5 separate regions of the Homo sapiens genome follow, and all the other regions are linked to region 4. The links come from fine-mapping of genetic effects on gene expression. A gene starts in region 4. Each other region holds a variant in brackets. All regions are shown on one strand. Distances are between the middles of the regions. Region 1 has its middle 3.0 kb from the start of AURKB. Region 2 holds the start of LINC00324 (long intergenic non-protein coding RNA 324). Region 3 holds the start of ATP1B2 (ATPase Na+/K+ transporting subunit beta 2). Region 4 holds the start of CTC1 (CST telomere replication complex component 1). Region 5 overlaps AURKB (aurora kinase B).

What was found.
Region 1: its variant is fine-mapped to the expression of CTC1 in whole blood (TOPMed, PIP 0.98). The same link has a PIP of 0.9 or more in tibial nerve.
Region 2: its variant is fine-mapped to the expression of CTC1 in monocytes after R848 (Quach 2016, PIP 0.95).
Region 3: its variant is fine-mapped to the expression of CTC1 in spinal cord (GTEx, PIP above 0.99).
Region 5: its variant is fine-mapped to the expression of CTC1 in naive CD4 T cells (Schmiedel 2018, PIP 0.92).

What each region holds. Positions count from the first base shown.
Region 1 is chr17:8,211,002-8,216,101 of GRCh38, reverse strand. No RefSeq gene overlaps it. Among named protein-coding and RNA genes, the nearest start is that of AURKB, 3.0 kb to the right of the region's middle. The variant T/C (reference allele first, on the strand shown) is at 2,305.
Region 2 is chr17:8,219,034-8,224,133 of GRCh38, reverse strand. LINC00324 (long intergenic non-protein coding RNA 324) reads left to right here and starts at 91. Exons shown (of 3, transcript NR_026951.1): 1 at 91-322; 2 at 860-1,841; 3 at 2,625-3,504. It overlaps TRW-CCA1-1 (tRNA-Trp (anticodon CCA) 1-1), which reads left to right and starts at 3,194; the gene lies at 3,194-3,265. TRG-TCC3-1 (tRNA-Gly (anticodon TCC) 3-1) reads right to left here and starts at 2,586; the gene lies at 2,515-2,586. TRD-GTC2-11 (tRNA-Asp (anticodon GTC) 2-11) reads left to right here and starts at 1,825; the gene lies at 1,825-1,896. It also overlaps TRP-CGG1-3. RefSeq lists enhancers at 308-547, 798-927, 474-1,215, 1,538-1,737, 2,118-2,257 and 2 more and silencers at 1,278-1,327, 1,788-1,857. The variant T/GATT (reference allele first, on the strand shown) is at 2,889.
Region 3 is chr17:7,648,871-7,653,960 of GRCh38, reverse strand. ATP1B2 (ATPase Na+/K+ transporting subunit beta 2) reads right to left here and starts at 3,035. Exons shown (of 7, transcript NM_001678.5): 1 at 2,331-3,035; 2 at 459-587; 3 at 16-120. The coding sequence starts at 2,442. RefSeq lists enhancers at 2,465-3,107, 3,382-3,882, 3,883-4,383 and a silencer at 2,976-3,125. The variant C/G (reference allele first, on the strand shown) is at 3,068.
Region 4 is chr17:8,245,187-8,250,281 of GRCh38, reverse strand. It overlaps CTC1 (CST telomere replication complex component 1), which reads left to right and starts at 2,226. Exons shown (of 23, transcript NM_025099.6): 1 at 2,226-2,278. The coding sequence starts at 2,246. PFAS (phosphoribosylformylglycinamidine synthase) reads right to left here and starts at 993. Exons shown (of 28, transcript NM_012393.3): 1 at 943-993. RefSeq lists enhancers at 809-1,565, 1,690-1,809, 2,290-2,429 and a silencer at 2,150-2,199.
Region 5 is chr17:8,202,078-8,207,164 of GRCh38, reverse strand. AURKB (aurora kinase B) reads left to right here. Exons shown (of 9, transcript NM_004217.4): 6 at 277-415; 7 at 526-674; 8 at 1,775-1,949; 9 at 2,121-2,431. The coding sequence ends at 2,294. Among named protein-coding and RNA genes, the nearest start is that of AURKB, 6.0 kb to the left of the region's middle. RefSeq lists an enhancer at 2,966-3,466. The variant AC/C (reference allele first, on the strand shown) is at 3,032.

The sequences.
Region 1 (5,100 bases), 34 kb after region 4:
TGAACTTTCTATCTTTTTTTTTTTTTTTTGACGGAGTCTTGCTCTGTTGCCCAGGCTGGAGTGCAATGGCACGATCTTGGCTCACTGCAACCTGTGCCTCTTGGGTTCAACGGCTCTCCTGCCTCAGCCTCCTGAGTAGCTGGGACTACAGGTGCCCACCACCACACCTGGCTAATGTTTGTATTTTTTGTAGAGACGGGATTTCGCCATGTTGCCCAGGCTGGTCTGGAACTTCTGGGCTCAAGGGATCTGCCCACCTTAGCCTTCCAAAGTGCTGGGACTACAGCCATGAGCTGCTGTGCTCAGCTTAGCCTCTTTTGTTTATACTGTTTTCATGGTTTCCATGAAATAAAATATCAGTACTTCATTCCTCTTAGGACTAAGTAAGTTTCTATTTTATGGATATATGACATTTTGTTTATTCATTCACCAGTTGATGGACATTTGGGCTGCTTCCAACTTTTGGCTGTTGTGAATAACGCTGCTTCTGAATATTTATGATACTTCCTTTCAATTCTTTTTTTTTTCTTTTTTTTTTTTTTTTGAGATGAGTCTTGCTCTGTCACCCAGGCTGGAATGCAGTGGCATGATCTCAGCTCACTGCAACCTCCACCTTCCAGGTTCAAGAGATTTTCCTCCCTCAGCCTCTGGAGTAGCTGGGATTATAGGCACCCACCACCACACCTGACTAATTTTTGTATTTTTAGTAGAGATGGGGTTTCACTATGTTGGCCAGGCTGGTCTCGAACTCCTGACCTCATGATCCACCCGCCTCGGCCTCCCAAAGTGCTGCGATTACAGGCGTGAGCCACCGTGCCTGGTCCACACCTTCTTTTTAGGGATTATTTGTCATTAATATTTAATCCTGCAAACAGTTCCATGACTCTATACACCTTCTAAAAAATTAGAACATTAAAGGCAAAACTTAAGTCCCCTTTGATGACCAACCATCTCTGCCTGCTCCCTCCTCTCCACAGAAGAGACAATGGCAATGCAAATACATGAGGTATATTTCACTACGTTGATGTGCCGGCAGTTAAAGGTAAATTGATAGATTAAAGAAGCAAATTGGTGTAACCAAGTCCAAACTTGTTCTGAGGCTGCAATGAGCTATGATTGTGCAGCAAGAGTGCTTGCCTCGGACAAAAGAGACCTTCTCTTAAAAAAAAAAAAAAAAAAAGGCCAGGTGCAGTGGCTCATGCCTGTAATCCCAGCACTTTGGGAGGCCGAGGTGGATGGATCACAAGGACAGGAGTTCGAGACAAGCCTGGCCAATGTGGTGAAACCCCATGTCTACTAAAAATAAAAAAATTAGCTGGGAGTGGTGGTGGGTGCCTGTAGTCGCAGCTACTCGGGAGGCTGAGGCAGGAGAATGGCGTGAACCCGGGAGGCGGAGGTTGCAGTGAGCCGAGATCACACCACTGCACTCCAGCCTGGGCGATAGAGCGAGTCTCTGTCTCAAAAAACAAACAAACAAACTGTGTGTGTGTGTGTATATATATATATATATATATATATATCTTATCTTACCTCTTTCCTGTCTGTCCTGAAGCTGGCCATAAATAAATTCTCTGAACAATCTTGTTCAATTATAGGTCATAAGACCCCCATTTCAGAAGGTGGAAGGAATACTGCACAGAGAAGCCGGGAAGAATCTAGACAGGCCTTGCTGGGCTTCCCCACTCAGCCTATTAGTACTAGATCATACCCTCTTCGTCCAATCACATTTCTACACAGTCGTCATGCTTCAATCACACCTATTTAATGAAGTCTCCATAAAAGACCCAAGAGGATGGGGTAGAGAGAGCTTCCTGAGAGCTGAACCCGTGGAGCATCCTGAAGGGCGGCACACCTCAGAAGGGCATGGAAGTTCCATGCCCTTCCCACCTCCTTGCCCCGTGCATCTCTTCATCTGTATCCTTGGTCATATCCTTTATAAGGCCGGGCACGGTGGCTCACGCCTGCAATCCCAGCACTTTGGGAGGCCAAGACGGGTGGATCACGAGGTCAGGAGTTCGAGACCAGCCTGGCCAACGTAATGAAACCCCGTCTCTACTAAAAATACAAAAATCAGCTGGGCGTGGTGGCGAGTTCTCCTGCTGAGGCAGGAGAATCACTTGAATCCGGGAGGCAGAGGTTGCAGTGAGCCGAGATTGCACCATTGCACTCCAGCCTGGGTGGCAGAGAGACTCCATCTCAAAAAAAAAAAAAATCCTTTATAATAAACCAGTAAACATTTTTTCCTGAGTTCTGTCAGCCACTCTAGCAAATTCATTGAACATAAAGAGGGAATCGTAGGAACCC[T/C]AGCTTACACCCAGTTAGTCATGAGTACAGGTAAAAACAACCTGAGGCTTGCAGTTGGCATCCAAAGTGAGGGGCAGTCTTGTGGGACTGAGCCCTCAACCTATGGGATCTGATGCTCTCTCTGGGTAGATAGTGTCAGAATCTAATCGGAAGACACCCAGCTGATGTCTGCTGCAGAACAGATTGCTTGATTGCAGAACTGATTGCTTGGTGGTGCAGTAAAATCTCCACACATGTGGTCGCAGAAGTCTCCTGTGTTGATTGCTGTGGTGTGAGGGCAGAGGAAAAATTGGGTCTTTTTTTGTTTTTGTTTTTTTTAGACAGACTCTTGCTGTGTTGCTCAGGCTGGAGTGCAGTGGCGTGATCTCGGCTCACTGCAACACTCCCAGGTTCAAGCAATTCTTGTGCCTCACTCAGCCTCCTGAGTAGCTGGGACTATAGGCACCCGCCACCGCAACTGGCTAATTTTTTTTTTTTTTTCGAGACGGAGTCTAGCTCTGTCACCCAGGCTAGAGTGCAGTGATGCGATCTCAGCTCCCTGCAACCTCCGCCTCCCAGGTTCAAGCGATTCTCTTTCCTCAGCCTCCCAAGTAGTTGGGATTACAGGCGCCTGCCACCACATCCAGCTAATTTTTGTATTTTTAGTAGAGACGGGTTTCACTGTGTTGGCCAGGCTGGTCTCGAACTCCTGACCTCGTGATCCACCCACTTCAGCCTGCCAAAGTGCTGGGATTACAAGCATGAGCCACCGCGCCTGGCCAGAACTGGCTAATTTTTTGTATTTTAGTAGTAACGGGGTTTCACCATGTTGCCCAGGGTGGTCTTGAACTCCTGAGCTCAGGCAATCCACCCTCCTTGGGCTCCTGAAGTGCTAGGATTACAGACATGAGCCACTGCGCCCTGCCCATTTTTTGTTTTTATTGAGACAGGGTGTCACTCTAATGTCGGGGCTGGAGTGCAGTGGTGCAATCATGGCTCACCACAGCCTTGACCTCCGGCCTCTGCTGATCCTCCTGCCTCAGCCTATCAAGTAGCTTGGACTAGAGGCACACACTACCATACTGGCTAATTTTTTTTTTTTTTATTTGTAGAGACGGGGTTTCACAGGTTGCCCAGGCTGATCTTAAACTCCTGGGCTCAAGTGATACAGCCGCCTTAGCCTCCCAAAGTGCTGGGATTACAGGCGTGAGCCGCCAAGCCTAGCCATGGTTTGTTTTTTCTACACAATATGCTTAAACAGCAAATAGCATTTAGAATGCATTCAGAAAGGATATTAGCTGAATAATAATCTTCTCTATTGTTCATGTAAGAAAAGTGCTAACGTAGGCATGTAGAGGCTCAACAATGTCATCAAGTCCTGAAGTTCTTTCCAGGCCTCTCTTCTGCCTTCTGCAATGTTAGGCTTCAATGTCAAGCTGCTTCCTTCAGTAGCACTAGAAGCAGCAATGAGGGCTGCATGCTTCCCTGCTCACTTCCAGAAATCTCTTCCTCCATACCTTGCCCTATACATCTTTTCATCTATATCATTTGTAATACACTTTATGATAAACCAGTAAACGTTAAGTGTTTCCTTGAGCTGCCCAGCATTCTGAGCAAGAAACTGATTCCCACTAGCTGGCCCACTTAAATCACAGGCTTATGCCTGATCCAATAACCATAATCTGGAATAAAAGGTATTGATTAGTATAAGTTAATTGGGGCTCATTTCTGGACCTGCAATGAAGTCAGTTTCCTTCTCAAATCCTCAAAACTCTAAGTGCTTTCAGAAGTGGGAATAAAGCTGGGCGCAGTGGCTCACGCCTGTAATCCAAGCACTTTGGGAGACCAAGGCGGGCGGATCACCTGAGGCCAGCCTGAGCAATGTGATGAAACCCCGTCTCTACTAAAAATACAAAAATTAGCCGGGCGTGGTCACATGCACCTATAATCCTAGGTACTCGGGAGGCTGAGACAGGAGAATCAGTTGCACCCTGGAGGAGGAGGTTGTGGTGAGCTGAGATTGTGCCATTGCACTCCAGCCTGGGCAACACAGCGAATCTTCATCTCAAAAAAAAAAAAAAAAGTGAGATTTAAATAGGTCTTCATCAACCTAGGGATTTGGGGTTGTCAGCAACAGAAACTACTACAGAAACCGACTGCATAGACTGGAGAGACAGGTGGTCCCCTAAAGGAAAAATAGAGTGTTAGAAGAAAGGAGAAGAGTGCTGGACAGTACATACTTAATAAATATCCACTGGTTATTTCATAGAAGGCCCAAAAATGTATTTATTTAACCCAGTAATGAAATCTGAGGGTTAGGAAGAGCAGAAAAGAAGGAAGTGTGGCAGGAAGGAGGAAAAATGAAAGTGGGCCCAAACAACACGGCAGCTAACAGAGATCTTGCAACGAAAGGTCTATTGGTGGAAAAACTCCTCCCAGGAATGTCAGAACTTTTAAGAACGACATAGTAATGACACAAGAATAAACACACAGGCAAATGAGCAAACAACGGAATACAAAGTCTAGAAATAGACACAAGTAAATATGCTAACATTATATATCAAGGGCAGCATTTAAATTCTGTTGGGGCAGTTTGTTTAACAAATGGTGTTGACATAACTGGCGCTCCATCGGGCAGAGAAGTTAGACCCCAGCTCATACATGCATAAGGATAAACTCCAGTTACATTAAAGATTTAATTTTTTTTATAAAAAGAAGAAGGCCGGGCACGGTGGCTCACGCCTGTAATCCCAGCATTTTGGGAAGCCGAGGCGGGTGGATCACCTGAGGACAGGAGTTCGAGACCAGATTGGCCAA
Region 2 (5,100 bases), 26 kb after region 4:
TCTGCTGCCCTTCCCCACTGTCTGTCCAGGGGAACCTGGGAAAGACAAATAGGAGCTGAATCCTTCACTGAAAGCCCCGTCATCGTATCTATGGGTTGGGCATTAGGAACGGCCTGGCCCCACAAATCACACAACTGGGGTGTAGAACAAAATGGTTCCACAGATGACACCAGGCTGGTCCAGGGCCGATGCAGGCCAGAACCCCGCTGGGAGGACTCCCCAGAACAGGCACTGAGCTGAGGAAAGGCAGGACACGTGGTCTGCTACCGACCCCACCAGATCTTGCTGGGACTCTGGGCAGCTCCGGAGTAAGAGCAGCATGGTGAGTGTTTAAGAGCGCAGAGGCTCACTGGGCAGTCCCGGGGACACTGCTAAGTCCCCAAACCGGGTCTACAGGCCTTCGACCACATTCATGCGGCCACGTGCCTCAGAGCCTTCGGGGGGTCTTAGGAGGCAGGCAGGAGGGTCTCCCTTCTAGGCCATTCTAGGAGGGGACTGGGGAGCAGAGGTTAGACTGTAGGGTAGGGGTAACCTGATCTTACAGTCCGGAAGCCATGAGACTAGTCGCCTGGCCTTGCGCCCCGCCCCACTGCAGGGTGGAAAGCCTGTCCCCCTCCAGTCACCCAGCTCAATAACGCCCTCTTCCGTGGGTCTTCTGGGCCCCAGAAATCGTTCCCTCTTTCCCTCGCTTGGGTACTGCCATGCGGTCTGGGGAACCCGTGGACTATCGATGGGTCTGGCCCAGGGTTTGCCCTGCCCGTTAGCCCAGGAGGATAGACAGACACGGGGCACTGGTGTTCCCCTAGTGATTTCTCCTGCCCGTCCCGAAAGCAAGCAATTCCACCGCTTCTCTTCAAAGCTCTGCAACGAAGAGCTAGGTCCAAGGACCGCAGGCGGAGGCAGGAAGTGTCAAGATCCCAGGTTACGGAATGGCACCAAGTCGGTAACCAAAGGAAGCAACAACCCGGGTGTTCAAGGCAGTCGTGCAAGGCGGCGCGGGGGCGAGGCCGAGGCCACTCCCTCCCACTTCCTTGACGCTATTTCCTGGGAGGAGCCGGAGCTCGCGGCCCGGAGCCAAGAGATTCCCAGCCCAGTGCTCCAAAATACTCGGCCTGGGGGAGGCTGGTCCGTGAGCGTGCGCCCGGACCGTTCCGCCATGCATAGTGGACCCAGCACTACAGCAAGCCTGGCACGACCTCTAAGGCGGTTCGCGGCAACGTCCGCACGTCGGCTCGTTGGTCTAGGGGTATGATTCTCGCTTCGGGTGCGAGAGGTCCCGGGTTCAAATCCCGGACGAGCCCTCCTTTACCTTTTACTGAGACAAGAGTGTCTTCAAGGAATAGGTTACCTGACCAGCGCTGCAGGAGGCTTGACTGTAAGTCATCAATGTACAGTAAGCTCTTTTGTGGCACCGCGGTAGCAGAAAGCATCTCAATCCCCAGACCCGCCTGGCATGTCAGGAAGAGACGAGGCACGCCCAGACTTGGGCAGGTCCCTCCCTTTCTGCTTCCTGACTTCCTTCCTGGTGTCTCAACTCGGCCACCACAGCCTGGTTTCGCTTTGATTGACACGCGTCAATCTATAGTTGTGGATGACAGTGTTCGGGAGAGCCCAGGAACTGTCAAAACTTGGTTCTCTGCAGTCCTGAAGGCACTCTGTCTCTTTCGGTCACTCCATCTGACGATTGGTGCCTGAAATACACCTACGGTTTCTGGTCAGCGTTTATCAGTGGTTGGAAGAACAGAACCCCTAGGAACCCTGCTGTCAGCACGCAGAGTGTAAAGTCTCAGATCAAGGATTCGGAGAAAGGTCTCTACAGGTCCCTCCTCGTTAGTATAGTGGTGAGTATCCCCGCCTGTCACGCGGGAGACCGGGGTTCGATTCCCCGACGGGGAGAGTACTAGCAGTTTTGAAACTTCTATCTTTTTGCTTTCATTAAATCCGTCCTGGTCCCTGGGATGGAGCTATAAAAAAGAGGGAAAGGAGGAGGGGAGGAGAGTTTGGCCTTCCTCTCCAGCTCGCATTCTAAGTTTCCATTTTACTTCAAGCAACTTAGAGTTCAAACGTGTACCTAAAGTGGCCATTATCTGCTCTGCTCAGTATGCTCATTAGCGCTCAGACTTGGCCTAGCTTGCTCCCTCCTTGACGGAAGTGCGCATTTCCAGTCTCTGCTTGAACCTGGGCAAGTAGCTTTGGCCCCCAGCCGTCCAGGGTGCAGAGCCCGGGCTTTTGTTTCCTTTCGCCTCCCTGCTTTTTGTGGATTCGCACTGCGATCCGGGAACAGTAGGCAACCCCGGGCCGAGATTCCGACGCGCTGCTCTCGCCTGGAGGGGCTTGCAGGGCGCATCCGTCAGGAGCGCGGTGGTCCAGCCGTGGTCGCGGGTGTAGCGGAAAGTGGGTCCTTTCGGAGCGGAAGTTTCCTCAGGAAAACCTCACGAAAACCCTCAACGATGCTGGGGCCCAGAAAACACGAAAAGGAAAAGGCGGGGGGGGGAAAAAACACCCAAAACGACTTGCGTTGGCCGGGAATCGAACCCGGGTCAACTGCTTGGAAGGCAGCTATGCTTACCACTATACCACCAACGCTCCGGTGCTAGCTCTCTTTCCTGGTTTTCATACCTCAGGTTGGTTGGGATGAGTCGGGTTGGACCCGTGCGGATCCAGGAAAACAGCGATCGAGGTAAAAGTAATGGCTGCCGTCGTCTGCCCAGCGCGCAATTGTGAGTGACCTTCACCGCTAGCGCGCGCCACCCACCCCACATGAACCTGTAGGGTTATGCCCAGTCTACAGACGAGGAAACCAAGATCCAGGGAAGCTGAGTCACCGGCAGAGCTGGGATTACGTCTAAGATTTGTCCAGGGGGCGAGAACTGCAGCGACACCATGAT[T/GATT]TATCATCTCCAGAAAACAAAAAAAAAGGCCTAGACACATAAAAATGGCTTCTCTGTAGAGTGAGCTCAACGAGCTCAATGTGATTCCAGTTAAGGAATTGGGCCTTAAGCCAAATGCGCCTAAACGCAACTTGCCTCTCTATTATTTATCCAGAGGATGAATTTAATTCCTACGTACATGCGCCCACATCTCGTCAGCTGGTGCCTCAGAGAAATGCGCTGACAAATCTTAAAGGTGGGGCTTCATGACAAAAGTCCGCCCGTTATTGCTGCTCAACAGACCCATCAAGTCACGCTGTTGGACAGGCCTCGTGGCGCAACGGTAGCGCGTCTGACTCCAGATCAGAAGGTTGCGTGTTCAAATCACGTCGGGGTCAAACAAAACATTGTTTTCCCTAATCAAATAGACCTACGGTGACATTTTTCAGGATAGGAAAAAAAAAAAGCCTCCTCAGTAGAAGGATAGGAGGGGAATGAGACAAATATGAACGTTATTCAGAAGTTGGGTGCAGACTTTCAACATTATGTGATATATCCCTGTGGCAAAACTGCGCATGTATCCCTAAGGTCTATAAAAGTAAAAATAAATTTAAAAATAAAAAAATTCCCTGTTGTATGGAAATTGTTAAATAATTTTTTAAATTATTATTTTTTGTTTGTATTTTTTTTTCCCTTGAGACGGAGTTTCTCTCTTGTTGCCCAGGCTGGAATGCAATGGCACTATCGCGGCTCACCGCAACCTCCGCCCACGGGTTCAAAGGGATTCTCCTGCCTCAGCGTCCCGAGTAGCTGGGATTACAGGCATGCACCACCACGCCCGGATAATTTTGTATTTTAGTGGCGTGAGCCACTGTGCCCGGCCTTTTTAAATGTTTTTAATAATCTCTGCTGTTCTAGGTATGTTTACTTAACACTGAACACAAGGATATTAAATACAAATATTACCTTTCTCCAGACTTCCCAGCAGTCACTAGAAGCCCAGGACCACGTGCATTTTGGCTGCTTCCAGTATATTGAAAAACAAAACCGGTGGGATGGGATGGCTCACGCCTGTAATCCCAGCACTTAGGGAGGCCCAGGCGGGCAGATCACGAAGTCAAGAGATCAAGACCATCCTGGCCAACTTGGTGAAACCCCGTCTCTACTAAAAACTACAAAAATCAGCTGGGCGTGGTGGCGCATGCCTGTAGTCCCAGCTACTTGGGAGGCTGAGGCAGGAGAATCGCTTGAACCCCGGAGGCAGAGGTTGCAGTGAGCGGAGATTGGCACCACTACACTCCAGCCTGGCGACAGAGGGACACTCTCTCTCAAAAAAAAAAAAAAAAAAAGAAAGAAAGAAAAAGAAAAAGAAAGAAAGAAATCCAGGCCACCCACCCTATATGCCTTGTCTTTTCCAATGGGAAATTTATTCCCTTCACCTCTCTCTCCTCCACTAACAATACCTTTCTAAGTGTGACTGGCTTTGGTTGATGGGGAAGAATTTGGGCCATCTCACCACCATCCACACAGCAGACATTGCCCAGGTTAAAATCTGTGCTCCGCTTTCCTTCCCCTTTCTTGCCCCTGCCCACCTTCTGCCATAGCTGTCTCTGTGTCACTGTATCACTATGTACAAGACAAAGGCAGACAGTTGACCAGTCCTTGCAGAAATGGTGCTTGAAGAACTGCTGATGACCTGAGCAAGGTAACAGCATAGAAACTCTGGCGACCTAAGGCGGAGCTGGCTGTGAGGCTGGCTACCAAGCAGTCCCACCACCATTCTCACTGCCAGGGCAACCAGAAAACCTTGCCTGCATTAATTATTTCATAAGGAGATGCAAAATGATCATTTCCTAATTCTATCATTTTGTGTACATTTATTAGCTGAAACACACACACAGATATATTCGTAACAAAATAAAGAAGAAATACAGCCAGGTGTGGTGGCTCACGCCCGTAATCCCAGCACTTTGGGATGCCGAGGTGGGCAGATCACCTGAGGTCAGGAGTTTGAGACCAGCCTGGCCAACATGGTGAAACCCCGTCTCTACTCAAAATACAAAAAAAATTAACCAGGCATGGTGGCACATGCCTGTAATCCTAGCTACTTAGGAGGCTAAGGCAGGAGAATCACTTGAGCTTGGGAGGCGGAGGTTGCAGTGAGCTGAGATCATGCCATTACACTCCAACCTGGGCGACAGATTGACGCTCCGTCTCAAAAAAAAAAAAAAAA
Region 3 (5,090 bases), 600 kb after region 4:
CAGGCCCACACTCACGCTCCAAGAACTTGTTGAGCTTCTGAACATGCTGGTCCCAGCTTTCAGTGTCACTGACATTGACAATGACATCAAGGTTCTCAGTCTTGGGGCGAATCATCAAGCCTACAGCCAACAAAGGCAGAAGTTGGGGGTATCTATAAGATGAGGGACTGCACACAGAGGGAAGAAAATGGACACAGGGAACACCAGAGTGGGGACAGCGGTGAATATCTGAGATCGTCTTCATGGGAGGGTGATCTCCTGTGGCTATCTGCCACATGCCCAAATCACACAGCTCCCAACTGCAGTAAATGGGAAGGTGGACAGATTTCAAGAACTTCCAAGCACGTGGGGATTGGGTCATCAAAATCAAACTCCTGGAAGGAACTATGAGTTCCTTCTGGAGGTTTGGGGGCACAAGAGCAGTTAGAGTAGCTGGCAGGGGGAGCCTCCACACTCACCCGGTGTGGCCAGTCGGTCCTGGTACTTGGGGGTATGGTCGGAGACAGTCTGCAGCATCACCCACATGGTGAGGGTGAACATGGCGGTGAGGAACCCATAAAAAACGAGGTAGAAGAGGAGGATAAAGGCTAGGGAGGAGGAAACAGGGTCAGCAGGGCCCAAGGTTCCCACCATAACCTCAACTATCCCCACACACCCCTCTACCCACTCTGAAGTTCTGCACTGGGACTGATCACAGAGCCACAGGGATGTCTTAGAGCCTTCCTCTGGAGGCAAAATGAGACAAACTGGAAACAGGCAGTTGTGTCTGGCTTCTAGCCATGACTCCCAGCCCCCTCCTGGTCCTAGGGCACAGTGAAGCCCGACCTTGTGGAGGTCTGTTATTTTGCCTCCAATTACATTTCCAACTTCTCAACCATGCATAGTCCTGACAAGGCACACATCTGTTACCTCTGCATTCGTACTCATGCTTAAAGCTGTGCTAGCATGGTGCCTTTTAAAGCGGGTACTGGCCACCATTCACAAGCAAACCCTCATACCACCCCGCAGAGACTGGACCCTCAGATTTGAATAGCAACATCTCTCTCCTGGTGCCCTTCAGAAGCCAAACTTTGAACACAGTTCCTGAAATGAAAGACCTAACACTAGCCTAGCTACAAATCTCTCAGAGACGGCTTGTTAGAACCTTCAACAGTCACCCCACCCTCAGTTCACACCCAGCACCCTGGGCAGAGGCAGGGAGGAAAGGCAGAATCTCCCACAGCCTTCCCTTGGTGGGATCTCTCCATGGCTCCCCCGCCTGAAGTAAGGACCCAAGGGCCGGCTGTTCCCACCACCCTGGACTCCCAATCCTTCCATCTCAGAGGACACTTCTTCCATGAAGTCCTCTGGCTCTCCCAAGCATTGCTGGATTCTTCTCATCCCAGGGGCTGGAGTTTGAGTTCCCTGAGGGAATGGATTGCATGGGACCCACTTCGTGTAGGCCCCGAATGGGTGGACTGATGGGGACGGTGCCCAGTGTGGAAAGATTGTAAATCGTGTCACACAGTGTCCTCTGTCCCCTGTGTCTCAACGTCCCAGCTTGACCATCCCTCTTGGAAGAATTCCACCCCTCACCTGCACCTGTGCCGGTCACCAGACCCCCTCCACCCCCCCAACCCCCGACCACTACAGCTCCCTGAGTCCTGCCATGGTCAGCCTGGGGAGGCTTCCAAGTCATCCGACTGTCACAGACACCTGGCTGGCTGATGCACACAAATCACCACAGCGACCACTCCTCCCTCCGTCACCGACATGGGAGCAAAACCTGCAGCCTCGGTAAAACTCATACTATCAGCAGCCCCCCAACCCACAAAGCAGTCCCAGAAGGCTCCCAAGGCCAGGCGGTGGGATACAGACAACTTCCGCCGTGAAGAACCCCCCTAACACACCCCCCAAGACCCGCCCCCTCATGAACGTTCCCAGGGTCCAGGGGGTGGGCACGAGCTAAAAATAGACGGGGCTGCGGAGCTAGTGAGAGCCGGAGGGAGGGAAGGGGCGCTCTTTGGAGGTGGGGGACGCCCGTGTGGAGCGGACAGGCCCCGAGAGGGAGTGTGAGCGCCGGCGCGGACACGCAGGCGGAGCTGGCGACCCCCCGCCCGAGGGGGCTCCGCGGGGGGCGGGAAGGCGGCTGTGACCTACTTTCTCCGCCTCCGCACGGCCAGCCGGGGAGATTAGACTGGCGATTCGGCCCCCTCCCAGCCCAGAGCCCGGCAGGGAGGCTGGACGCCGGGGACCCGGGAGGGGAGCTGGGGCCGCGTCGGCGGGACCCTGCGCCCCCGAGGCGTCGCCCCGCGGCTTTCCCCCGCCCCTTGCGTGCCGGCCCTGCGTACCCCAGCTGGTCCCGGTGCGGCCCATAAACTGGTGCGTCCTCGGGTTCCACACGAACTCCTTCCACTCCTCAACCACCTGCCCGCAGCTCTTCTTCTCTTTCTGGATGACCATCTTGGTGGCGCGGGGCGAGTCCGGGCGCGGGGCGGGGGGTTGCGGAGAAGCGGGGGCGCCGCGCGCTGAAGCCCTCCACACACCCAAAAGCACGGGGAGCGAAGGCGGCGCGGGCAAAGGAGACCCCCCTCAGATATGCAGCTGCTGCAGATTCCGGGGTGCACGACCACGCGCTGCGGGGTGCTGGCAGCGCGGCGGAAGATGCACCGATCCTAGGCCCCCCAACTGCGATGAAAAGGGGTGCTGTCAGAGCAGGGGAGAATAACAAGAGGAAGGGGTATGAATGCAGCTTCACCCCCCACCAAACCGTCTAGAAACAAAACGAAATGGGGTGCAAAAACAGACGGCTACAAAAACCGAGCAGAACGCAGAAAAAAAGCGGGGTACAAAAAGGCAGAGAGAGGTGGGGGAGGGGGCCGCCCCGAAATCCAAGATGCAAAGAAGCTGTGGAACGAAGCTCAAGGCTCGCTCCGCCAAGCGGAGACCACTGCACCGGTGGTGGCTCAGCCGCGGGGGTGGGGCGGGGACGCGCAGCTGGGGGACAGCCAGGGATGGGGGGCCCCCCAGGCGGAGGCTCCGCTCCTCAGCAGTGCGAGGCCCGCGGTCGCCGAGCGCGGTCTTTATA[C/G]TCTGCGGCTCTGGGGGTGCCCGCCCCCTTCCCACCCCCAGAAGCTCCGCCTCCTCGCCACTGGCCCAGGCGACCTCATACATATGTAAATATGGAGAGGTTGGGCCCGCCCCCCTGACTTCTCTTAGGGACCTAGCTGTCTCTCCATTACCCCCACCCCAGGTACTAGACTGGGACAGGGTGGGAGGAAGAGATAGAGGGCGTGTCCGGGCGGAGTAGAGGGAAAGATAACCCCAGAGAAACACAACGGCAGAGAGAGAAGCCGATATATGCTCAAAGGTGGGGGCCCCAGGCAGGGAGTTAGAAAGAGACTAAGATACAGATGCGGCGGAAGAGTCCGGGAGCAGATGGGGCAGAATGTCAGAGGAATAAAGAGCTAGAGATCAAGAAAGAGAGCGAAGAGACCAGCCGGGAGGCTGGCCGAGCCAGGAGGGAAGCTAGGACAGGCCCCGCAGAGATGGATAAAGGCCACCCCCAGAGGGACGTTCCCCTGTTGGGAGCCGCTACCAGTCCCCCAGACGCCTCCTTCTCCAATCTCACAGCCCCTGTCCACACCACCTGGCTCTGTCCACGTGCAGAGGCTTCCCCATCTTCCCATCACGTCTCCCTGAAGCCCTCTCAACACCACATTCCCAGTCCCCAGCACTGCCCTGAGATCCCAGCCCTGCAGCCAGGTCTACTTCGGTTCTCTGCCTCCTGGCACCCCCACCCCCACGTCGGAACTCACCTCCTTATGTGTCTACTTGGGTCAACAAACATTTATTGAGCACCTCTATAGACTGTGTGCTGTAGCCCTGGGGAGGCCAGAGAGGTTACACTGAAGCCACATCTCTCACGGGGCTCACAGTCTAGGGCGGGAGTACACTTGCTCTACATACCACATGTTAAGAATCATTATCTCAAGCCGGGCACGGTGGCTTATGCCTGTAATCCCAGCATTTTGGGAGGCCGAGGCGGGCAGATCACGAAGTCAGGAGTTCGAGACTAGCCTTGCCCACATGGTGAAACCCCGTCTCTACTTAAAAATGCAAAATTAGGCCAGGCGCGGTGGCTCACGCCAGTAATCCCAGCACTTTGGGAGGCCGAGGTGGGTGGATCACGAGGTCAGGAGATCGAGACCATCCTGGATAACACAGTGAAACCCCGTCCCTACTAAAAATACAAAAAAAAAAAATTAGCTGGGCGTCGTGGCGGGAGCTTGTAGTCCCAGCTACTTGGGAGGCTGAGGCAGGAGAATGGCATGAACCCGGGAGGCGGAGCTTGCAGTGAGCCGAGATCGCTCCACTGCACTCCAGCCTGGGCAACAGAGCTTCCGTCTCAATAAAAAAAAAAAAAAAAATTAGCTGGGCATGGTGGTGGGTGCCTGTAGTCCCAGCTACTCAGGAGGCTGAAGCAGGAGAATTGCTTGAACCCGGGAGGCGGAGCTTGCAGTGAGCTGAGATCACGCCATTGCACTCCAGCTTGGGCAATAGAGTGAGACTTCGTCTCAAAAAAAGAGAGAAAAAAAAAATCATTATCTCGGCCAGGCCCAGTGGCTCATGCCTGTAATCCCAGCTCTATAGGAGGCCGAGGCCAATGGATCACCTGAGCAAGGGAGTTCGAGACCAGAGGTCAGGAGTTCAAGACCAGCCTGGCCAACATGGTGAAACTGCGTCTCTACTAAAACTAAAAAAATTAGCCGGGTGCGGTGGTGGGAGCCTGTAATCCCAGCTACTCAGGAGGCTGAGGCAAGAGAATTGCTTGAACCTGGAAGGTGGAGGTTGCAGTGAGCCGAGATTGTGTCACTGCACTCCAGCCTGGACAAGAGCAAAACTCCATCTCAAAAAAATGGTATGCATTGAATGAATGAATGAATGAATGGGAGTTGGGGCTGGCCTCTGAAGGGTAGGTAGTCTTCCAGGACAAAGGAATGAAAGGCACAGAGGTGTGAAGTCAGGAGTAAGCACAGTCTACCCCAGGAGTGGCTGGCTTGGCTCCAGGAGAGAACTAGTCGGAGACTAGTGGGAAAGGAGGTTGGGGACAC
Region 4 (5,095 bases):
CTTCCCATTACACATGGTATAAATTCCAACTCAGCATCCTGGTTTACCAAGTCTGGCCACTCTCTGGCCTACCTTTCCAACCCTATCTCACACCATTCTCTTTTTCACCCACAATGCACCAACCACACATTAGCTTCTTTTTTATTTCTCTAACTTGCCAAGCTCAGTCCTGGAAGGCATTTTTTTCACCCTGACATATGCATGGCTAGCTCTTGTTATTTAGATTTCTGGTGATTCGCCTTCGTGGAAAAGGCTTCACTAGCCACTCAAGTAGTTACTATCAGATGGCCGGCCCTATTTTAATTTCCTGTAAAGCGCTTATCACTATTGGATGTTTTTATTTTTCGCTCTATATTCCCCACTAGAAAAAAAATCTCTACGTGGGCATGGGATGTTGCTGCTTCGTTTCCATTGAATTACCAAGGCTTAGAACAATACCAGGGCTTGAAACGCAAAAAAATTCTAAAACTTGTGGAATGACTTAATGAACTCTTGATTCTCACCACTCTTCAGCCCCTCCCCAACTTTCAGGACAGTCTTCCTGAAGGCATTTTGTTTATTAAGCCACTTGATTTCCGTCTATCATTCCCAGTAAAATATAAGCTTCAAGAGCTCAGAGACAGGGTTTGCGTGCATGAGGGCTGTATTCCATGACCAGCATGGTGCCTGATATAAAGTAGGCGGCCGGCAGTCTTTCTGTTAGCTGAATCCATGAATGGGACAATGGGGCTAAATTTACATGGGGGTCGGCCATGCCTGGGGTCTGCGGAACGCACGCAAGATAGGACGAATGGACGCCTCCACTAAAGCAAATACGCGGGCACCAAGTAGACACAGCTCGGCCCGGTGGGGATACTGAAGCCGCCAGACCAAGCTTGGGCTAGATGACGAAACGCTGCACCTGGAGGAGGATCCAGGTCCGCACGCGGTAACTATACTCACGTGGAAGATGCACTCGCGGCCACAGAGCACCTCGAATCGTCGCGCGCGTTTGTTACGTCATCCGCGTGCGCCGCGGGCAGAGACTGGACCTGCCAGCGCCGGGGCGACTACGCCCCGCCCACTTTTCCCCAGCCACCCGGCCGAATTCTAGGTTCTTGGTGGGGAGAGGTTTATCCCCAGGTGGTTTCTCCCACAAATCTGTCTTGAACTGACGTTTGTGAAAATACATTCAGTTCCCCGTCCCCGCGGGGACAGTTAAGTAATGACATCAGTTAGTTAAGGCCATAAAGCAAGCATGTGAAAGTTGTGCTTTGGTGGCATTACGAGGAAGCCCTTCTCTGCTTGGCAAGATCAGGGAGACTGAAAGATGCTTAGAAGTCATCCACCAGGCGGGCTGTGTTTGAGTTCCTGAGCTCTGCTACCCCATCCATCTGAAGGCCTGCGGGATGCCGGACAGGATGTCACTTAGGAGGGAGACGGAGGCTGGGCGCGGTGGCTCCCGCCTGTAATCCGAGCACTTTGGGAGCCCGAGGCGGGCAGATCGCTTGAGCCCAGGAGTTCGAGACCAGTCTGGGCAACATGGCGAAACCATGTCGCTACAGAAAAATACAAAAATTAGCCGGGTGTGGCGGTGCAAGCCTGCGATCCCAGCTACTTGGTGGGCTGAGGTGGGAGGATCGCTTGAGCCCGGGAGGTCGAGGCTGCAGTGAACCGAGATGGCGCCGCTGCACTCCAGCCTGGGCGATAGAGCGAGACCTCGTCTCAAAAAAATCAGAGAGGGCCAGGGGCTGTGTTTCACGCCTGTAATCCCAGCACTTTGGGAGGCTGAGGCGGGTGGATCACCTGAGGTCAGGAGTTTGAGACCAGCCTGGCCACATGGTGAAACCCCGTCTCTACTAAAAATACAAAAAAAAAAAAAAAAAAAAAAATTAGCCGGGCGTGGTGGTGGCAGGTGCCTGTAATCCTAGCTACTCAGGAGGCTGAGGCCGGAAAATCCCTTGAACCTGGGAGGCGGGGGTTGCAGTGAGCCGAGATCGCGCCACTGCACTCCAGCCTGGGCGACAGAACCAGGCTTCGTCTTAAAAAAAAAAAAATCAGAGAAAAGAGACAGGGGTGTCGGGAGTTGGGATGGTGCACCGAGGCGCCTCGCGGAGTCTCTAGGAAGCGAGGGGGTGAGCAGCGAGAAGGAGCTGGAGGTGGCGAGGAAACCCGCTCACCGGTGACGTCACCGAGCGCCCCCCCACCCCCATCCCCACCCCCAAGCGAGCACCTGCCCCTCCCGGGGGCGGAGCTCCGGCGCATCATGGCGGCTGGCCGGGCCCAGGTCCCTTCCTCCGTGAGTGCTGCTATTACGTCTCTTGTTCCTTTTTTCTTGTTTGTCACAGATACTCTTTCTCTTCCTATTTCCTCTGCCTTGTCTCTCTGGGCTCGCTGGCCGCGTCCGGCCCATGGGTGAGGGGGTTGTGAGTCGGTCCGCTCCTACCTCTTACTGGTTCTGCGAATGTTTATTCCCTCATTCACGCGGCGCCCGCTGTGAGCCTTAAACTGGTCTCCGTTCACTCTCTAGGGTTTAATCCTGGTGGGAAACCAGGAGCAGGTTAATGGGGGAACTATGGGGCTGTGGGTTCCTGGAGAAGACCCTTGACGGAGCTGTAGGGGAAAAGGGCAACCATAATAAGTAAAAGCGTCTGAGACCCGAAGTGCGTGTAGAAGGCAAAAAGCGCCGAAAGGGGCTGGGTGTGGTGGCTCACGCTTGTAATCCAGCACTGTGGGAGGCGGAGGCGGGCGGATTACTTGAGGTCAGGAGTTCGAGACCAGCCTGACCAACATGGTGAAACCTCATCTCTACTAAAAATACAAAAATTAGCCGGGCGTGGTGGCGCGCACCTGTAATTCCAGCTACTCAGAAGGTTGAGGCAGGAGAATCGCTTGAACCGGGTAGACGGAGGCTGCAGTGAGCTGAGATTGTGCCACAGCACTCCAGCCTGGGCAACAGAGCGAGACTCTGTCAAAAAAAAAAAAAAAAAAAAAAAAGCGCCGGAAGGGGTTTCAGGACGGAAGCAAACACATATTCAAAGGCAGGAGGATAGAGCAGGTGTCTGAAAAACTCAAAAGTTCAGTTGGGTGGTGGTGGAGGGGTCAGAGCTGACAGTTTTGTACCTCTTGCTAAGCAGCGACTTTAACATGAGGGTAATTGGGTGTGGTGGCACACGCCGGTAATCCCAGCTGCTCAGGAAGCTGAGCAGGGAACCACGGAAGTGGAGGTTGCAGTGAGCCGAGATCGCGCCACTGCACTCTAGCCTGGACGACAGAGCCAGACTCCATCTCAAATAAATAAATAAATAAATAAATAAATAAATAAATAAATAAATAAGATGTTAAGAAAATACAATCTAAAGGATTGGTTTGTGTGCGTGTGTGTGTGTGTGTGTTTTGAGACGGAGTCTAGCTTTGTCACCAGGCTGGAGTGCAGTGACGCGATCTCGGCTCACTGCAACCTCTGCCTCCCAGGTTCAAGCGATTCTTCTGCCTCAGCCTCCCGAGTAGCTGGAATTACAGGCATACAGGCACGCGCCGCCATGCCCAGCTCATTTTTGTATTTTTTTTCTTTTTTTTAAGTACAGACGGTGTTTCACCATGTTAGCCAGGATGGTCTCGATCTCCTGACGTCGTGATCTGCCCGCCTTGGCCTCCGAAACTGCTGGGATTACAGGCGTGAGCCACTGCACCCAGCCAGGACTGGGACCTATGTAGGGAAAGGAAGGAGCTAAGGAGGACATCTAGGTTTCAGGATAGAACAACTGTTTGGTTAAGGGTACTATTTGCTAAGTTAGTGAACATAACACTAGAAGAGTTCTAGAAAAGGACAGGGTTTTGTGGAAAGTTCAGTGTTGGGCATGTGTGCTGCCTGTGGATTGGCCATGGAGAGTCTGGCAGATGGATAGGACTAAAGCTCAGGAATGAGATCTCAGCTAAAGTAGACATACAGGAACAATCATCATCTGGCCATGGCTGTTAAACCCATGCAGTGGTTGAGATAATTGTGGGAAAGCATATTGTGTTCTTAAACTTCAGCCTGTATTAATCTGGATCTTCCTCTTCCTCCCTCCTTTTTTTTTTTTTTTTTTTTTTTGAAACAAGGTCTTACTCTGTCACCCAGGCTAGAGTGCAGTGGCACCATCATGGCTCACTGCAGCCTCAACCTCCCTGGGCTCAAGCGATCCTCCCACCTCAGCCTCCCAAGTAGCTGGGACTACTGGCGTGTGCTACCACGCCAGGCTAACCCAGCTAATTTTGAATTGTTTTAGAGTTTCACCATGTTGCCCAGGCGGGTCTCAACCTTCCCAGGCTAAGGTGATCCTCCCACCTCAGCCTCCCAAGTAGCTGGGACTACTGGCATGTGCTACCACGCCAGGCTAATCCAGCTAATTTTGAATTGTTTTAGAGTTTCACCATGTTGCCCAGGCGGGTCTCAACCTTCCCAGGCTCAGGTGATCCTCCCACCTCAGCCTCCCGAGTAGCTGGGACTACAGGCACGAGCCACCATGCCCAGCTAATTTTTCTTTTTTGTAGAGACGGGTCTTTGCCTTGTTGCCCAGACTAGTAGTGAACTACTGGGCTCGAGCGATCCACCTTGGCCCCCCAGAGTGCTGGGATTACAGGCGAGAGCCACCACATCCAGTCTGCTCCATTTTTACTCAGTAGATGAAAACACGAATTTGCCTTTTTAACAAAACTTAGGTAATTTTACCTTGAAGCCATGGGATCACTTTGAGAGACAGTCGTATTCAGTGCACCAAGCAAAGGATAGGCCATCCGAGAAACAGGAACTACAAAAGAATACTGGGAGAGGAAGACAAAAAGCGTGAGAGTCGGAACTTTGCTTATACTGGTGGGGCAACTCTGAATGGTGATTTGGTCTGCCTTCCACAACTCTGACCATGAATGAGTGTGTGGCTGAAGTGGGCTGAAAGTCAGTGGTAGGGCTGTCCACAAGGATGCTGAAGACATCTAGAACTTGAAGACTTTTTTTTCCTTTTAACTTTTATTTTAGATTCAGGGGGACGTGCGCAGGTTTATTATGTAGGTAACCTCATGTCATGGGGGTTTGGTATAGAGATTATTTCGTCACCCCTGTACTAAGCATAGTACT
Region 5 (5,087 bases), 43 kb after region 4:
TGCCCCCTGAGCCGAAGCCCCTCTGCTCCCTCACCCCCAGCTCCTCATTCAGCCCCACTTCATCCAGATTGCTTTCTCTGTAGCTATGGCTAGTGAGCCCCATTTAGCTCTTAGTCCTGGCAAGCCTTGAATCCAGAAATCTGCCTCCAGTTTCCCCTTACCACTCCCAGCCCTGGTGTCCCCGGCCTGGGCCACGTCTGACCCCAGTTTGCTCCTATCATCTTTTCCAGCTCTTTTATGCCTTTGGCCTGAGGCCTCCTCTGTCTCTTCCCCCAGCCATCCCAACATCCTGCGTCTCTACAACTATTTTTATGACCGGAGGAGGATCTACTTGATTCTAGAGTATGCCCCCCGCGGGGAGCTCTACAAGGAGCTGCAGAAGAGCTGCACATTTGACGAGCAGCGAACAGCCACGGTCCGGGCGGGTGGGCACCTGGGGCGCCAGTAGGGGGCTCGAGGCTGAGGGTGTGCTGCTTGTAGCTGGAGGTCCATCCTTGTCTGATTGCCTGTCGTTGCCCCTCCCAGATCATGGAGGAGTTGGCAGATGCTCTAATGTACTGCCATGGGAAGAAGGTGATTCACAGAGACATAAAGCCAGAAAATCTGCTCTTAGGGCTCAAGGGAGAGCTGAAGATTGCTGACTTCGGCTGGTCTGTGCATGCGCCCTCCCTGAGGTATGGTGGCCTGGGAGGCCAGACCTGGGTGTGAGGCTGGGCCATTAAAACCTCTCCAGGGGCCGTGCACCGTGGCTCACACCTGTAATCCCAGCACTTTGGGAGGCCGAGGAGGGCGGATCACCTGAGGTCAGGAGTTCGAGACTAGATTTGCCAACATGATGAAACCTTGTCTCTACTAAATATACAAAAATTAGCCGGCCATGGTGGCGGACGCCAGTAATCCCAGCTACTGGGGAGGCTGAGGCAGGAGAATTGTTTGAACCTGGGAGGCGGAGGTTGCAGTGAGCCGAGATTACGCCATTGCACTCCAGCCTGTGTGACAGATCGAGACTCTGTCTCAAAAAAAAAAAAAAAAAATGGTTAGAGTGTGGTGCTAATAACCCCAAGGTCGCAGGTTTGATCCCTGTAGGGGCCAATGGTAAAACTTTGGCCAGGCGCGGTGGCTCACGCCTACCAGTCCCAGCACTTTGGGAGGCCAAGGCGGGTGGATCACTTGAGGCCAGGAGTTCAAGACCAGCGGACCAGCCTGGCCAACATGATGAAACCCCATCTTTACTAAAAACACAAAATTTATTAAGCAGACATGGTGGTGCACACTTGTAATCCCAGCTGTTCGGGAGGCTGAGACATGAGAATCACTTGAACCCGGGAGGCAGAGGTTGCAGTGAGCCAAGATCGCCCCACTGCACTCCAGCCTGGACTCTCTCAAAAAAAGCCCGGAGCAGTGGCCTTTTTTCCTCCCACATCACTTTTTAATGGTTTCATAGTATCACATAGTAGCTGATTTATTTAACCAGAACATGCCTGATGGGCATTAGAGATGTCCCCAGTGAACTCCAAATGAACACTGCCCTCATATCAGGGTATCTTATTAAGATATATCCTTCAGTGTGGAGTTGCTGGGCTGTGTGCAGGCTCACCTCTGGGGCTTTGGGATATATCATCACCCCAACCCCACCCCCACTCCAGTGGCCTTGCCTGGCTGGACCTCTCCCCTGGTACATCCCGTGGTCTTTTGGCTCCCAGCCGTCAGGCAGCAGGGAAAGGAGAGTTCCTATGTCACTAGGACCCCTGCCCACGCCCCTTATCCCTCCCAGGAGGAAGACAATGTGTGGCACCCTGGACTACCTGCCCCCAGAGATGATTGAGGGGCGCATGCACAATGAGAAGGTGGATCTGTGGTGCATTGGAGTGCTTTGCTATGAGCTGCTGGTGGGGAACCCACCCTTTGAGAGTGCATCACACAACGAGACCTATCGCCGCATCGTCAAGGTGGGAGGGCGGCCTGGGCTTCGTGCCAGCTGCTGAAGCCAGGAGCTGGGGGGCTGGGGGTGGGCAGAGTGTATTTGCATGGCCCTAAGTAACTCCAAACAGAATGGGTAGTCAAGGAAGATGTAGCCAGGGTGAAACTAATGCAGCCCTTCCATCTCTTCACACCTGCAGGTGGACCTAAAGTTCCCCGCTTCCGTGCCCATGGGAGCCCAGGACCTCATCTCCAAACTGCTCAGGCATAACCCCTCGGAACGGCTGCCCCTGGCCCAGGTCTCAGCCCACCCTTGGGTCCGGGCCAACTCTCGGAGGGTGCTGCCTCCCTCTGCCCTTCAATCTGTCGCCTGATGGTCCCTGTCATTCACTCGGGTGCGTGTGTTTGTATGTCTGTGTATGTATAGGGGAAAGAAGGGATCCCTAACTGTTCCCTTATCTGTTTTCTACCTCCTCCTTTGTTTAATAAAGGCTGAAGCTTTTTGTACTCATGAGTGTAGATGTTTCTAGGTGGAGGCTTTGCTGTGGAGGAAGCTGTTCCCTAGAAGGAGAGCTGGCTCACCCTGAGGAGCCGGGATGAGCATTACTTTGCTATCCCTGGTAACACCCTACCCTCTCAGCTCTGACACCCACCTGGTCAGCTCCCAGCCACCCCAACCCCTACCCCCACTTCCACCTCTACCCTCACTGTCTATTCTTTCCGTTGCTCAGACTCCCACAGCCCAGGGGCACTGGGGGCCCTGGCTCCCCATTGCTACATTGGAACACCAGCCATCTCTGGCCACCTTCTTTCACCTCTCTCTTGGTTGTCCAACTTCTAGTTTTTCCTTTTCTGTTTCATTCTCTGCCCCTTTGCCAACGTAGGAGCAACTAAACAGTTCTGTACCCTAGAAGCTGTCTTTGATTATTTCACTGCTCTGGTCAGGATCTAGTACAGGAGCCAATAGAAGCAGCAGTGATTCTGTCTTGTTCCTGACATGAGGTTACACTGTTATGCATGATGCTTGCTGTAGGTTTTTGATAGATACCCTTTATCAGGTTAAACAGGGCCTATTCTACTCATAGTTTACTCAGAGTCTTTAAAAAAAAAA[AC/C]AAAAACAAAAAAACAGTTAAGTCTGGGCGCAGTGACTCATGCCTGTAATCCCTGCACTTTCAGAGGCCGAGGCAGGCAGATCACAAAGTCAGGAGATCGAGACCATCCTGGCCAACATGGTGAAATCCCATCTCTACTAAAAATACAAAAATTAGCTGAGCGTGGTGGTGCACACCTGTAGTCCCAGCTACTCAGGAAGCTGAGGCAGGAGAATCGGTTGAACCCGGGAGGTGGAGGCTGCAGCAAGACCAGATCGCACCAATGCACTCCAGCCTGGCTACACAGCAGGACGGAGTCTCACCCTGTCATGCAGGCTGGAGTGCAGTGGCCCGATCTTGGCTCACCGCAACCTCCAACCTCCTTTCAGGTTCAAGCTATTCTCCTGCCTCAGCCAGCCAAGTAGCTGGGATTACAGGCGCACGCCACCAAGCCTGGCTAATTTTTTTGTAGTTTTAGTAGAGATGGGGTTTCACCATGTTGGCCAGGCTGCTCTCGGACTCCTCACCTCAGGTGATCCACCCTCCTCGGCCTCCCAAAGTGCTGGGATTACAGGCGTACCACGCCTGGACAAGTTTTTTTTTTTTTTTTTGAAACAGAGTCTTGCTCTGTCGCCCAGGCCAGAGTGCAGTGGTGTGATCTCAGCTCACTGCAGCCTCCGCCTCCCGGGCTCAAGTGATTCTCCTGCTTCAGCCTCCCGTGTAGTTGGTATTACAGACATGTGCCACCACTCCTGGCTAATTTTTGTATTTTTAGTGGAGACCGGGTCGGGGTTTCACTGTGTTGGCCAGGCTGGTCTTGAACTCCCGACCTCAAGCAATCTGCCCACCTCGGCCTCCCAAAGTGCTGGGATTACAGGCGTGAGCCACTGCGCCTGGCAGGATTGATTGATTTTTTTTTTTTTTTCTTAATTCATTGCTTTACACCAAGCCTCTAGAACAGTACCCGGAATGTAGAGGACACTCAGTAACTACTGTCAAATGAATAAATCTAACCAAAATTATGGTGGCAGTGGGGTGGAAGAGTGAATTCCTTGAATTTTATAGCAGGAAAAAAACAGGTCATGCCTAAAACTGAAAACTTAAGAAGCAGCAACGGAAGCATGTGATTTAAAAACGTATGGTAGGGGCTGGGCGTGGTGGCTCAGGCCTGTAATCCCAACACTTTGGGAAGCCAAGGCAGGTGGATCACCTGAGGTCAGGAGTTCGAGACCAGCCTGACCAACATGGTGAAACTCTGTCTCTACTAAAAAAATACAAAATTAGCCGGGTGTGGTGGTGCACGCCTGTAATCGCAGCTACTTGGGAGTCTGAGGCAGGAGAATTGCTTAAATCCGGAAGGCAGAGGTTGCAATGAGCTGAGATCACGCCATTGCACTCCAGCCTGGGCAACAAGAGCAAGACTCCTTTTGAAAAAAAAAAAAAGAAATCTGTACTTGTACACCCTGAGAACGTAAAAATTAAAAAAATAAAAATAAAATATACGTGACTGTTGTTTAACAACTTAAAAAAAATGTATGGTAGGCCAGGCTCAGTAGGCCATGCCTGTAATCCCAGCACTTTAGGAGGCCAAGGCGGGCGGATCACGAGGTCAAGAGATCAAGACCATCCTGGCCAACATGGTCAAACCCTGCTTCTACTAAAAATACAAAAATTAGCTGGGCATGGTGGTGTGTGCCTGTAGTCCCAGCTACTAGGGAGGCTGAGGCAGGAGAATCTCTTGAACCCGGGAGACAGAGGTTGCAGTGAGCCGAGGTCAAGCCACTGCACTCCAGCCTGGCGACAAAGTGATACTCCGCCTCAAGAAAAAAAAAAGTATGGTAAATACCCAAAGCAAATCAAAATAAAACAGTGAAAAGACTTGGAACTGGCTATCTCTAGGGAGAAAGAAATGGGCGGGGTGCTTATTTATTTTTTATTTTTTGAGACGGAGTTTTGCTTTGTCACTCATGCTGGAGTGCAGTGGCACAATCTCAGCTCACTGCAACCTCCACCTCCCAGGATCAAGCGATTCTCCTGCCTCAGCCTCCCGAGTAGCTGGGATTACAGGCATGTGCC